Linked DNA regions of Homo sapiens. The protein of the gene in region 2 interacts with the protein of the main gene of each other region in a pairwise test. Each region holds a gene or a part of one and is shown on either strand. Other genes may lie near its edges. The genes, in order: TMPRSS2, TMEM222, PRSS23 and FAM174A.

Region 1 (3,665 bases), on a different chromosome or scaffold from region 2:
CCCCCCCTTGTTTTATTTTCAATTGGAGAATGTTGTTGTTGTTTCTTTTTTTTTTTTTTTTTTTTTTTTTTTTGAGACAGAGTCTCTCTCTGTCACCCAGGCTGGAGTGCAGTGGCCTAATCTTGGCTGACTGCAACCTCTGCCTCCCAGGTTCAAGTGATTCTCCTGCCTCAGCCTCCCAAGTAGCTGGGATTACAGGCACCCACCATCATACCCAGCTAATTTTTGTATTTTTAGTAGAGATGGGGTTTCACTATGTTGGCCAGGCTGGTCTTGAACTCCTGACCTCAGGTGATCTGCCCGCCTTGGCCTCCCAAAGTGCTGGAATTATAGGCAGGAGCCGCCGTGCCCGGCCCAGCTGGAGAATGTTACTGGCAGCATCACTCTGGTCTTCCATTCCAAAGTCCATGGTAACTGACTTGGGCACACGGAATATTTTTGTTTATCATGTTCTGATTGCTGGAAGAGATAGGATTATCCTGTGACTGCCTCTGGGTCCCATGGCTTTTATTTGACAATTAATGGTGGTGGCTCCCGGTGTTCCTTCCTTCCCTGGCTTCCTTGTTAGGGATCGTGAATGAATAGCAAGTGTGGGTTTTGAGTATTGATTCTTCACTCCTTTCAGAGGGCTTCTGAGCTGGGAGAGCTGCCAATGGGATCGAATTTTCACTTCCTGAAACTTCAACCAAACCTGTAACTGGGGAGATAGGACAGCCGAGAAACCAGAGGCATGAGGATGTGTTTGGTTAGGCAGGACTCTTTGAAAGCAATCTTAGGATGGTACTGAGTTCTGTCCTGCTTATGAGACAAGAATGCGGGATTTATTGTGTTGTCAAGCCTGAGGATCCTCTCTCTTCACAAAGCAGACATAGGCAAGGTCTGTTAAGATGTGGCTAAAAGGCTTAAACGTTTTTGATACATTTTAAATGGTGATCCTTCCCACCTGTACATTAGTCACTTTCCTTTCCTTATACCCAGGAAGGTGTGAACTTTAGTTTTAATCCTAGAAAAAGTCCCAAAGCTACAACATGACCTGGTTCTTGTATTTTTATCTGTAATTGAAGAGTAAATAAATGATTGGTGCATGTTTGTTGTAACCTGTTGGGTGAGGTTTCTCGAGACTAAAAAGCCATATACTCATTTTCATTCATGGCAGGCTGTTGGGGTTTTATAGTTTAATGATTCAGCAACCAGTTCTGCTTAGGACACAGGAAAGCGATGGTGTACTGAAGCCGGCCCCACTCTACTTGGCTCCGTGGTGGGCTTCATGTTGGTAGCCTGGGAATACTTACCGAAGGCAAACCTGCGAATCAAGACAGCCCTCTTTTCCTTCAGCAGGTTGTTAAATGTTTATCAGCTTTATAATTCCTCTTATTTAATGGAAAGTTATATAGCACTCATTTTATGCTAAGCATGAAGCACTTCATTAGTATTAACTCATGGAATGCCCTGGAGGTAGGTGTTACTATTATCTGCATTTGCAGATGGGGAAACTGAGGCACAGAACCTTCAATAGCTTCCTCCAGGTCATGGAGAGTGAGTGGCTGAGCCTGAGTTTGGATCTAGAGTCTAGTCTCAGAGGTCAGGGGCTGAACCGCTGCCCAGTGCTGCCTGCTGCTGTTTGAGCACCTGCTTTGTGCCAGCAACTGGGAAATATTCTTCTGTGGCCATGTCACAGACAGTGGACACTGGTCTGGCCAGGTCCGAAGCCCAGAGCCTCCTCCAGGTTCTTGTTCCCTCATTGGGAACATGGTCTTGTGGACGGATAATCTTGAACCCCGTTTCTTAAAATATTCTTTGGTCATTTAAAGCCAAGCGGGAAGGGGTGGAAAAAAGCCCTTTATTTGCTCAGGAAGGTGCATGTTAAAGAAAAAAAAATCGTCCAATGAGACTTGTTAAAATGGTGAAGCGAACTTTATTCAGGACCACGGAGGCAGGTACAGGGACCACAGCCAGCAGATTTTGCAGTGGGAAGAAGAGACTGGGATCCGCTTGAGTACAGTATGGGCAAGTGGGAGTTAATTTATAACCAAGGATCAGGGTGGGGTTGGTGGGTGGAAAAATCACAAAGAGAAAACATCAAGGGTAAGGGGGATTCTGGCTAAACCAACCAAACAGGATTCTTGCTGAAGACAGGCTGGGTGATCAGACATCACCTGTGGCACGGTGGAGGCTGAGGAACCCGATCAGATATCCAGAGTGATCAGATACCGAGGGTGGGAGGTTCTGGCTAAACTGACTGAGCAAGGTTTTTTGCTAAAACTGGATTTTACAAGGAAATGCACAGATGGCCTAGAAGGTTCAGGAGCTTGATATAAGTTTGATCAAGCGAAGAATCTTTGTCCATGGAGAGTGATGTCAGAATGCGGCTTTACTATACAGCATTTCGTGTTGACGGCATCTCTAGCTATTATTGTTAACTGTTCACAAAGGACAACAAGCAAAATGGCCCACAGCTTTCTTTTCATTACTGCTAATCTTAGCAGTGGTCAAAATGGTTGGCTCTGAATTTCTTTCTTTTTTGGGTTTGGGGTAGTAAATGGAGTGACTGTGGACATGTTTTATGGATTATTTTAAGCGTATGTATCTATTAAAAATTGAGAGGGCCCACATGGCCTGCTTTAAAAAGTCAACTGTGAGCTGTATTTGGTGCTGAGCCCTGAACCACCCGCTGGGCAGTGGGTGGCTACTGGCAGTGCCTGTGGACGTTCTCGGGGAAAGACGGTCTGATTGCACCTGCTCTTCCTCAGTTCCTAGTACTGTGAGGCACTCTTTCCCCACTCTCCCACAACCCTCAGCTTAACACAACTGTGGTGATTGCTTTGTCCGTTTTCCCATGAGGACCCTGAGATTTCAACAAGGTTCAGTAACTCACACATCGACACTTCCAGGGAGCTGTGTTGCCAGGAACTGGCCCAGGTCTTTCCCTCCTGGGCCCATCTTGTCCTTAATCTCTGCTGACATTGATGGGTTTAGTTACCTTGTCGTGTTTCTTCAGTGTTTTATGCCATACAGTCTCCCTTGAGTAGATGTTCTGTATAGGGGATATCACAGCTTCCTGGTGAGAACTGGGTTAAGTCCAGCAGGATGCCTGGGCTTAGTGGCACTGGAGTTGTGGGTGGCCTTGAGCCCCAGGCAGTCCCCTGAGAGCCCTTCCCGATGGATGTTTGAGTCACTGAGTGTGTTCCTTCTTCTTTCTGGTCAGGCTGTCCTGGCCGCTGCACTTACAATTGCACCCCATCCTCCTACCCACTCTGATCCCAGAGGAGAGTGCTTCTGCTGTAACCTCTAAGGCACAAGTGGGTCCCAAAGTCCTTAAATATGGAGGGATGTGGGGAAGCAGTGGTGAAGATGCAGGCCAAAGGTCAGCAGGCAACACTGGTCTTTGTTGTAGGTAACCTTCATCTAGAGATTCTTCTAGTTCTTTCCAGATTTATCTTCTAAAAACTAACTGGTATGGAAATATTACAGTCCTGTAATTCTTTCTTCTAGGTCATATTGAACATTCCAGATACCTATCATTACTCGATGCTGTTGATAACAGCAAGATGGCTTTGAACTCAGTAAGTGGTTAATTATTACCTTCCTGGCCTTTTCTTTGTTCCCTTGTCCCTTCTGTTATTCCCAACATTGTTTGGGGTCAGCAATTGCAAGGGCTATTTGTA
Region 2 (3,665 bases):
TGGGGTTGCCATGCTCTGGTGGACCCTGGCTGACCTCTCCCCCGACCCCAAATACTCTATTCTCAGGGTGCTGGCCCCTCCTGTGCCCCAGAAGGCCTGGCCCGCCCCGGCAGGAGCGACCTGCCTCTAGAGCCAGTCACATGGGTGTTCATCACTTACTTGGCAGGCTTTCCAAAGGCCATGTTGTCCTCCTGTTGAGGGACAAAAGCAGAGGTCAGTGAGGAACTTACATTTGGGCCAGATGACAAACCTGGGTAGGTGGCAGAAGTGCAGTGACTTAGAAGAGGGTATGTCAGGGGTGGGGGGGCCAGAAGTGGGGCCTGGGCCCTGCCCTGGGGCTGGCATGGCATCTAAAGAGCTAGCAGCTGTTCTGCAGGAAGAAGGCAGTGTGGCACAAGTGCACAGAGCACTGCATCAGAGACCAAAGATCTGGGGCTCCAGCTGCCACTGTCCCTTGGTGTGGCACCCAGGAATTCTCTTGCCCTCTCTGGGCCTCATTTTCTCCAAGTTCTCTGGTCAGTCTTCTCTGATCTCTGAGGACCAGCAGGAGGTTTCCATCATGGTCTGGCCTCCTGACTCAACAGTGGTGGCCCACATGGAGACCATCTCCTCGCCCAGCAGTCTGACTGCATTCATAGCAGGGCGGGGGCGCTGGGCCCAGAGGGACTTCCTGTGAGGGAGACACTGCAGTGAAGTCCTAGACTCATCACATTATTCCTGGGGTACAGGACTTACACAGAGACAGACTCTGGGTTCAGATCAGGGAGACCCTGCTGACAGACCTGGTCAATGATTAATCACCATAAAAATATATGATAAAGTAATGGATGTGAAAGTATTTTTAAGTACAAAGTGACAGACCTTTGTCGTGTTAAGATGATCATGACAACTATTAATATAAACAGGTTGGTGCCACCACACCCCTTCAGTCCAGCCTCTGACACCTGGAGACAGGATGATGCATGCTCCTCTGCTGCTAGCCCACTGGACCAGTCTTGGTCACAGCCCCAGGGAACAGACCTGAGAACACAGCTGCTTCATTCTAAAGCCCCACCCCCTCTTCTCCATGGCCACACCCAGGGAACCGAATCAGCCTCCCGTGTCCCCCCACCTTGACTCCCACCTTCTGAAGGTCCAGAGATGTGGTTCCTGGATGGTCTGACTCTCCACTCTTGCCTCTAATCCCTACCCATGTCTCGGTACCCCAGGGGTGGGGGCAAAGGGCTGGGTCAGTTACTTAAGAATCCTTCTGGCCACACTGCCCTCCCGGCCTGTCCTGGAGGCAAGAGAAGGGGGAAAGGGGTCAAACACTGGTGAGGGGCAGAGGGCCAGGGCCAGGACTGCGGGTTATCTACGTTCTCCTGGGTCTGGGGAGACGAAGCCTGCCTGCAGGCAAGACAGGACAGCCTTCCACTTAAACCTTGGAACCCCCCGGGTGGGCAGAATGGGGACTCACTGAGACAAAGTAGGGGCCCGCGAAGTCCCGAATGACTCCTGTGGATGTGCAGATGCCCATGTGGCCGATGATGGGGAAAAACCACCTGTGAGGAAAAGGACGGGGAAGGGACAGAGCTTAGGGGATCTTTCAGCCAGTTAGACGGACGCTGGGGACCCTTCATACAGTACAGAAGCATGTGAATATTACGTTTCATTGACAGGTGGCCATTAGGGTGGTCCAGAAGGCTGGGGAAGCACAGACAAGGGTAACTGCAAACCGACAGCACAATGGGATACCTCAGCATCCCGCCAGGATGGCTGTAACTCAAACGACAGCAACACCAATGCAGGTGAGGGCAAGGGACAACCAGAGCTCTCATTCACTGCTGGTGGGAGGGATAAACTGTTTCTACCTTTTTTTTTTTTTCAAATGGAGTCTCGCTCTGTCGCCCAGGCTGGAGTGCAGTGGCACAATATTGGCTCACTGCAACCTCCGCCTCCCGAGTTCAAGCAATTCTCCTGCCTCAGCCTCCTGAGTAGCTGGGACTACAGGTGTGCACCACCACGCCTGGGTAATTTTTGTATTTTTAGTAGAGATGGGGTTTCACCATGTTGGCCAGGATGGTCTCGATCTCTTGACCTCGTGATCCACGTGCCTTGGCCTCCCAAAGTGCTGGGATTACAGGCATAAGCCACTGCACCCGGCCTACCATTTTGTTTTTGAGATGGAGTCTCGCTCTCTTGCCCTGGCTGAAGTGCGGTGGCACAATCTCAGCTCACTGCAACCTCCGCCTCCTGGGTTTAAGCAATTCTCCTGCCTCAGCCTCCCGAGTAGCTGGGACTACAGGAGTGCACCACCATGCCTGGCTAATTTTTGTATTTTTAGTAGACATGAGGTTTCATCACGTTGGCCAGGCTGGTCTCGAACTCCTGACCTCAAGTCATCTGCCTGCCTCGGCCTCCCAAAGTGCTGGAATTACAGGCGTGAGCCACCGTACCCGGCCTGTTTCTACCATTCTGGAAAACAGTTTGGCACTATACTAAATGCCTCAGCAGTTTCACTTTTGGAACCTTCTTTGCCCTCACCCCTGGGAAATAACATTTGCCAAAACTCATTGAACTGTACTCTTAAAATGTGTACATTTTATTATATGTAAACTATAATTCAATAAAATTGATAAAAACAACTAGAAAGAATCCAAATGTTCAACAACAGTACGATGAATAAGTGTGGTATAGTTATACATTGAAATAGTCCATAACAATGAAAAACAGTGTCACTTCTGCTACACACAACACAGGCTTTCACAGACATAAGGGTGAATGAAGGAAATCTTACACAGAGTACGTAACATAGCACTCTGTTTACGTGAAGTCCAAGAAAAGGCAAGACTGATCTATGGCTAGAGGTCCACAGCGGGGTGGAATCTGTGGTAGAACTGACTGGGAGGGCACAAGGGGGTCCTCTGGGTCTTAGCATTGCTTTCTAGCCCCCGTCTGGGTGGCGGTTACATGAGTGTGTGATATGCAAAAATTCTTCCTGCTGTATACTTGAGATTCGCACACCGTTTGGTACATAAGTTATACCTCAATAAGAAAGTTAAAAAAAAAAAAAAAGGTGGGCGGTCATGACACCAGTATGGGTGGGGGAGTTCAGGAAAGGCTTCCCTGAGGAAATAACAAAGAAACAGAATGTGCAAGGGTAGAAATTGGAACAGAAGCATGGTGTATGCCAGGAAATAAAAGTTCCTTTTTTATAAACCATGGGCATTAAAAAACAACAATAAATCTCAGATGCACCCCAATATGTCACACATAGGAACCCCAGACCTGTCTGTGTTCTGAGAACCATGGCCCTACAGGACCTGGGTGCTGGAGAGACTGATCCAGTTTAAGGAGAACTCACAGGGCCAGTGGCCGAGTCCTGGCCTCAATGCTGCCTGGGCACGAGCATAAAGCACCTGGCTAGGGGTGCAGGCCAAGCCTCCAGAGACGCAGTTTAAAAAAGCAGTTACAGGGGGCTGGGGTGGAGCCAGTAAAGACTTCACAGAGGAGGTGACTTTTAACCTTGACCTGTGAAAGGACACAACATCAACAGGCAGAAAACAACACTGCAGAGCAAGAAAGTGGTACATGTGCCTGGAAGAACGAAAGGGGGAGAGGCCAGCTCAGGGGCTACTGCTGTACCACTGGCAAGAGATGATGGAGGTCCTGACTAGAGGATCAGG
Region 3 (3,665 bases), on a different chromosome or scaffold from region 2:
AAAATCAAGGAATCAAGGTGCTTCACAAAAGGAACATCTATTTTTTTAAAAAAATCCATTCTGGTCTTGGTGTTCAGTGAACTTTTTTTCACCAAGCTAAAGCAAAAACAAACAAAACCCCCAAATACCAGACATAGAAATGGAGACCTCCCTTCTTCCTCAGGCTAGATTCCTGTTAGATTCCAAAGAAAATTGTGCTGGAACTCAGAATTTTCCTGGCGGCTCTGCATCTCCTTGCTATGCATAGTATTTCTCATATGATTTGAAGAAAGCACTGTGGTTGTACGTTTCTTGAGTGCCTTATCAGAATTATCCTTCCAAAAAGCTCAAGAAAGACAAGCAGAAAATCCCCCAGAGAATGTCTAAGTGACAGTGCTCCATCTGAATATCCTTACAAATTGCTACAATGCAGGTTTACCTGGGGTGCAAGCACAGCAAACACGTGCTTGTAGTCCATTTGATTTTTTCTCCGATACATTTAGAAAGAAGTGCTTAGGCCGAGAGCCATAAAATAAAAACATACAATAAGTCCAAGTCTTTTCTGTATATGCTGTGATTTGATAATCATATTGATAAAACATGTGTAAAGGCCTTTATTGGAAGGCATGATTCTGATCCATTTTGCATTCTTCCAATTTTCATTTTTGCTATTATACCTAATTGTTTATCTATAACCTAGAGCATTCCAGCAAAAGCGGCCCTTTTAAAGCTAGAGGGAAAAAGGCCACACTGGTTTTCTTAAAGTAACTTCCAAGTATTTTCACTATAAATGAGAGAGAAAAGTTTCCAAATTGAAGAAGTACATAGCTCCCAGAAAGCACACTGAAAACTATGCAGAATAATTTTTGATCAGGCTGGAGGACTGTGCCAGGCTCCAAACAAGTGGTTATTCTGTTGTGACATCTGCCAGGCAATGCTTCCATTGTTCTCTGGAATTTAATTCATTTTAAATTACTCCATCCAAATGATAAAACATGAGATGTGCTATAATCCAGGGGTAAAATGCTATGATTGTTTTTAGTGTGGCCACAACTGTTTGCTGGGAGGAAATACAGCCTGTTCTAATTAAGCCCTGATTATTGTCTTCTGAAAAATAGCTAGTTCCAGAAATGTGAGTGAAATCCTGTTAAATGGAAGGGTTGGGATAAACACTCTTGGCCACTCTGGTATGACTTTAAAGTTGGGAGGGCCATATGCAAAGACTTCCTACAAAGTAGAGCAACAACCTTTGGAAAAGAAACTATTTTTGGAACTAAAAGCAGCTTGGGATACTGGTTTACTATAAGGTATAGTTTAATATGTGTATCAGTATAGTCAACACATCATTTTACTGTTCAAAGACTACCATGCAAATGCCTCCAAATCCAAAATATTCTGCCTAACAAATGCTGTCAAAGTTCCTAAATGGGAACACTGCCTTATGGAAGCATTAAAGATCAGGCACTGAATTAAAAAAACAAAAAAACCCACCACCAAGATGAATCTCAGAAGAAAACACACATGCACACATATAAGAATTCATATCTCTTGTATGCCAAATATTTAATATAAATCTTTGAAACAAGTTCAGATGAAATAAAAATCAAAGTTTGCAAAAACGTGAAGATTAACTTAATTGTCAAATATTCCTCATTGCCCCAAATCAGTATTTTTTTTATTTCTATGCAAAAGTATGCCTTCAAACTGCTTAAATGATATATGATATGATACACAAACCAGTTTTCAAATAGTAAAGCCAGTCATCTTGCAATTGTAAGAAATAGGTAAAAGATTATAAGACACCTTACACACACACACACACACACACACACGTGTGCACGCCAATGACAAAAAACAATTTGGCCTCTCCTAAAATAAGAACATGAAGACCCTTAATTGCTGCCAGGAGGGAACACTGTGTCACCCCTCCCTACAATCCAGGTAGTTTCCTTTAATCCAATAGCAAATCTGGGCATATTTGAGAGGAGTGATTCTGACAGCCACGTTGAAATCCTGTGGGGAACCATTCATGTCCACCCACTGGTGCCCTGAAAAAATGCCAATAATTTTTCGCTCCCACTTCTGCTGCTGTCTCTTCCACATCCTCACATAGACCCCAGACCCGCTGGCCCCTGGCTGGGCATCGCATTGCTGGTAGAGCAAGTCATAGGTCTCGTCTTTGACGTCACAGAAGCGATACACCAAATTGCCTGGTCGGTCATTGTCATAACCAGAGAAGTGAATTCTGCCCCCTGGCAGCTGCTTAGCAGGAGGGCTCACCCCAATCTTCATAAATTTTCTCTTGTGGGGCTTTTTGAGTTCCAGGAGGGCATAATCATAATCCATGCCGATGTCATTGGCATTGCCCTTGATCCAACCCTTGGGCACATGGGTGCGTTTCACCCGGATCCACTGAAATTTCATCTGCTCGGGCATGGCTGAAGTGGAGTCGTTGGCCCCTCGACCACCATCTTTAAACTTGGGCTTTAGGAAGCCCACTCGAAGCTTCTGGGTTCCTTTCACATAGGTTTTTCCATCGTGTATGCAGTGGGCAGCTGTGAGGACATGCTTCTCTGCCACCAGGGTGCCGGTGCAGCCCGTGGATAACTTCACTGATGTTGAGAAAGGGTAGTTGAGCAGGAAGTCCTTCCCAAAAATGCTGAACCTGCTGTCATAGCCATAAATCTGCCGCTTCCTTCGAGACTTTCCTGAAGACCCTGAGTCTCGGTGTTGGGCCCCATCTCCACTACTGCTGAGGATGTAGATGCCCACCTGCGTCTCTGTGCGGCTGCCATTGGCATAGAGCGTTTCATAAGACAGATATTGCTTGGCCTCTTCGTAAGTGGGCAGTGGAGTTCCCTTATGACACTGGGGTCCACATGAAGAAGATACTTCTAATTTGGCTTCGGCTCCAAAGTCTGGCTTGGCTAAATTGAGGGTAGACTGGGGCAAGACGACAGGGAGGCGGTATGCAGGCCAAGTGGGTTTCCAGGGGGCACTGTAAGGGCTCACTTGCCCAACAGCACAGAGCAGAAAGAAGAGAAGGAAGAGGAGCCCTGGAATCCCTGCCATGCCGAGCACTGTTCTGTAGAAACAAAGACAAGCAGGTCAGGAGGGCAAGGGCTGAACGTTCATTTACTGCAGACAGCAAAGCTCAGCAGCAGGCCTGTCATTGTTTCTGAGTCTTTGAACACTCCTCAGGAATCAGGGTGTGGAGAGGAATCCTTAGATAACGGTCTCACTTTCAACGCAAAGGCTCAACCTTAGGAAAGTTCCTGTGGCTGGGTGCCTGAAGTGAAATTGGGTGTTCCTTCCTTTCTATGTTTAAGATGTCCCTAATGATGGTAGACTGCAGAGTAGCAGGCATAAAGTCATTAGTCCCCTGGCTAACTGACTGACCAGCCCCAATTTCCACGTAATTTTGAGCCCTCTTTGTGCTTGATTCTAAACCTCCTCCTCTTCTACCTTCATGATGTCCCCGCCTTTCCCTCCTCCTTCTCTCATTCTCATTGTAACATGTACTTGGAAAATTTTCAGAGCAACTTGGTCACTCAGAGGGTCAATTTAAATTACATGGCTTACTGAGTGACTGAGACATCAAAGAAGGACAGCTCCACAGTGTCACAATTACCACCACTCCTGTGGTTTTTAAATGATGGTGCACTCGAGAAAGGGTATGAGATTTT
Region 4 (3,665 bases), on a different chromosome or scaffold from region 2:
CCATTCTATTTACATTGGCATTTATTCTATACTCATGTCATTTTATTTATCTAAACCTCTTAGGAAAGGTCTTAACACTTACTGAGAATAGATCTCAGTATATATATTACAGCTACATGATCAGACCATAAACAATTAGTCCCCCAATTCTGCAAGGCAGCACTATTTACAAACACTAGAACCCAAACTAAAAAGAAAATATCTTCAGAATACAAAAAGGAAATTAAATTTAATAAGTATTTCTCTCTCACACACACACACACAAACACACACGCACACAAACACACATGCACACACACACCCAAGTTAATACATATTGCAAGAATGAAGAAGTTAATGGGTCCTAGGCTTAATAACTGGGTGATGAAATAATCTGTACGACAAAACCACATGACACAAGTTTACCTATGTAACGACCCTGCACTTGTACCCCTGAACTTAAAATAAAAGATAAAAACAGAAGAATAAATTAAAAAAAATATTTTGAGATGGTATTCTATTGTTTGTATCTATTTGAGCAAAACAACGTGAATGTGAGCTATGGGGTAGATAGCAAAAAGAACTTCAGTAAACAGAACTGAAGAAACTGTGTTGGAATATAAGCTGTTAAATGAAAGTCTACTTTACTTCTTCAGTTTACTTGGCAAGGACTTGCTTCCTGATTCATGGAATTAAACTACTGGAATACTTACCTTCGAGGATGATTGGCATCAAACAACGTGTTGTCATCATCCTCATCATCCTGTTCTAAAGGTGTCAATTCCATATTTTCTATGTTAGTGTCCAAAACTCCATATCTCCTAGTCTTTCGGTTTCTTCTTCTCATCCTATCAAATAGAACAAATTAATGAATAAAAATTATTTAATATGGCATAGTTTATATTTATTTATAAAATAAATTATTATTCTGTTTCTGACATAGCAAACAATATCAGAATGGTTACATTTCAGATATGCAACAAATTTACCACCTAGGATTAAACTTCATGAAACAAAACCTACTCCTACATGTTTATGTGCCATCGCCTGTTTCTTCTGTCTGACATACTCTCTTCTCTCTGTGTCAACTGATGGTGTTGACAAATAACTTTTAAGCCTTAAATTCAGGTACCGTACTTTAAACCTTAATTTTTAAAGGCTTAGGTCAGGTACTTCTTTACTGAAACCTCCTGCTCCAGCCTTTTCCCCATGTCCTCCCCGCTTTCTTACCACTGTTTAGATGCCCCTCTAAGAAACTGTATGTATATGCATATTCACAGACTAAACTGATAGCCCACAACTCTAGCTGCACACTAGAATTACCTGGGAGTATTTTTTAAAGTCCCATGTTTAGGACATAACTGAATCAAAATGTACAGCAAAAAAGAACTAAATATGAATATTTTGTTGAGGTTCTAAATGTGATTCCAATGTGATATAAACCATTATCTGAGATCAGTGGTTCTTGCAGTGTGGTTCTCTGGATCAGCAGAATCACAGTCACCTAGGAAGTTACGAGAAATGCAAATCTTCATGGCTAGCCCAGACCTAGTGAATAACAAACTTTGAAGATGGGGCCCAGAAACCTGTCTTTTAACAAACATTTCTTATGCTTTTGATGCATATTCAAGTTTGAGAACCACTGGCTTAGAGAAATTCAAAAGATTCAAGGGTGCTTAACATTCATTATTAGCCATATGAATGAAATCTCAAGATTTAGAGTCCTACTTCCAGTTTGTGTCTCAAATAACTTGTTCTTTTCCTTCAAATCATTTACCTTAATTTGCATTCCTATGTGCTGATGTATATGTTTATGTGGGGTTTATTCATCTGTCTCTCCCACTAAGTTCTCTGAGGGCAGCAACCAAGACTGCTTTATTCACCACTACATAACCACTTCCTAGCACAGTGATGTATCAATTAAGATGTTCTTCAATTAATTGTTGAGGGTCTGAGTGACTTCTACTTTGGCGACCAAAACTGTGACCCTGCAAGGAATGCCTAAGTCATCTCCAATGCAACAACTTCAACTCCACAGACAGCAAAATGTGTTTCACAAGAGTGTCCACTGGAGTTTGAAAATAAATAGAAAATATTTCAGCAAGTTATCACAAATAAAATCAGTTTACATAAATTCTGATTTACTCTGTTTGACATATGTGGGATAAGAAATACTTGGGCTATAACATCAACTGTAAAGAGCAACATGAGACTCCTCAAACATGACAGTGAAGCTCCTGGAAAACAAACATACCTTCAACAAATAATTGAGTCTTATTAAGCATCAGGTATGATATTAGCACCTGGGTGTAAAGTGCCTGGTCTCAGTGTTAAAATTTACAAAATGTTACTAAGTGTGAGTACAAACAAAGAAAATTTCCACCAGTCATTACCTATAGAGCTATCTATATACACGTCTAAAGTGATGGAACAGGAAACAGAGAGTTAAGCATAGCATTTAAAGTTACAAATGTAACCAATGAAAGGGTCAGTAAATATTAGTACTAGCAAAAATGAAGCAGTATGAAATACAAAGTACTCTTTCTTTCACAGTGAGAAATTAAGTATGTTTAGGTTGTTACATTAACATGTATATGTGTGTGTATGTGTGCAAACACACCCACACACACCATGTAGACCAGAGGTCTAAACTTTCTCTATAAAAAACCCAGGCAAACAGGGTCTGGAGTGGACCTCCAGCAAACTCCAATAGACCTGCAGCTGAGGGTCCTGACTGTTAGAAAGAAAGCTAACAAACAGAAAGGACATCCACACCAAAACCCCATCTGTACGTCACCATCATCAAAGACCAAAGGTAGATAAAACCACAAAGATGGGGAAAAAACAGAGCAGAAAAACTGGAAACTCTAAAAATCAGAGTGCCTCTCCTCCTCCAAAGGAACGCAGCTCCTCACCAGCAACGGAACAAAGCTGGAAGGAGAATGACTTTGACGAGTTGAGAGAAGAAGGCTTCAGACGATCAAACTACTCCGAGCTAAAGGAGGAAGTTCGAACCCATGGCAAAGAAGTTAAAAACCTTGAAAAAAAATTAGACAAATGGCTAACTAGAATAACCAATGCAAAGAAGTCCTTAAAGGACCTGATGAAGCTGAAAACCATGGCAAGAGAACTACATGACGAATGCACAAGCCTCAGTAGCCAATGCGAACAACTGGAAGAAAGGGTATCAGTGATGGAAGATCAAATGAATGACATGAAGTGACAAGAGAATTTTAGAGAAAAAAGAATAAAAAGAAACGAACAAAGCCTCCAAGAAATATGGGACTATGTGAAAAGACCAACTCTACGTCTGATTGGTGTACCTGAAAGTGATGGGGAGGATGGAACCAAGTTGGAAAATACTCTGCAGGATATTATCCAGGAGAACTTCCCTGGATAGGGAAGTTCTAGCAAGGCAGGCCAACATTCAAATTCAGGAAATACAGAGAACGCCACAAAGATACTCCTCGAGAAGAGCAACTCCAAGACACATAACTGCCAGATTCACCAAAGTTGAAATGAAGGAAAAAATGTTAAGCACAGCCAGAGAAAACGGTCGGGTTACCCACAAAGGGAAGCCCATCAGACTAACAGCTGATCTCTTGGCAGAAACTCTACAAGCCAGAAGATAGTGGGGGCCAATATTCAACATTCTTAAAGAAAAGAATTTTCAACCACGAATTTCA

What was found.
Region 1: the proteins of TMEM222 (region 2) and TMPRSS2 interact in binary tests that used the Homo sapiens proteins (3 or more experiments, as listed by UniProt).
Region 3: the proteins of TMEM222 (region 2) and PRSS23 interact in a two-hybrid assay, tested with the Homo sapiens proteins (one large-scale study listed by BioGRID and IntAct).
Region 4: the proteins of TMEM222 (region 2) and FAM174A interact in binary tests that used the Homo sapiens proteins (3 or more experiments, as listed by UniProt).

The regions. Positions count from the first base shown.
Region 1 is NC_000021.9:41,498,017-41,501,681, reverse strand, and holds part of TMPRSS2 (transmembrane protease serine 2), read left to right. Parts: intron 1-3,492; coding exon of another isoform or gene 3,493-3,548; coding exon 3,549-3,563; intron 3,564-3,665. UniProt on the Homo sapiens protein: Plasma membrane-anchored serine protease that cleaves at arginine residues. Participates in proteolytic cascades of relevance for the normal physiologic function of the prostate.
Region 2 is NC_000001.11:27,328,596-27,332,260, reverse strand, and holds part of TMEM222 (transmembrane protein 222), read right to left. Parts: intron 1,547-3,665; exon of another isoform or gene 1,542-1,546; coding exon 1,457-1,541; intron 1,277-1,456; exon of another isoform or gene 1,124-1,276; intron 1,021-1,123; exon of another isoform or gene 192-1,020; coding exon 160-191; intron 1-159.
Region 3 is NC_000011.10:86,807,030-86,810,694, reverse strand, and holds part of PRSS23 (serine protease 23 precursor), read right to left. Parts: intron 3,065-3,665; 5' UTR 3,052-3,064; coding exon 1,900-3,051; 3' UTR 1-1,899.
Region 4 is NC_000005.10:100,559,216-100,562,880, reverse strand, and holds part of FAM174A (membrane protein FAM174A precursor), read right to left. Parts: intron 828-3,665; coding exon 693-827; intron 1-692.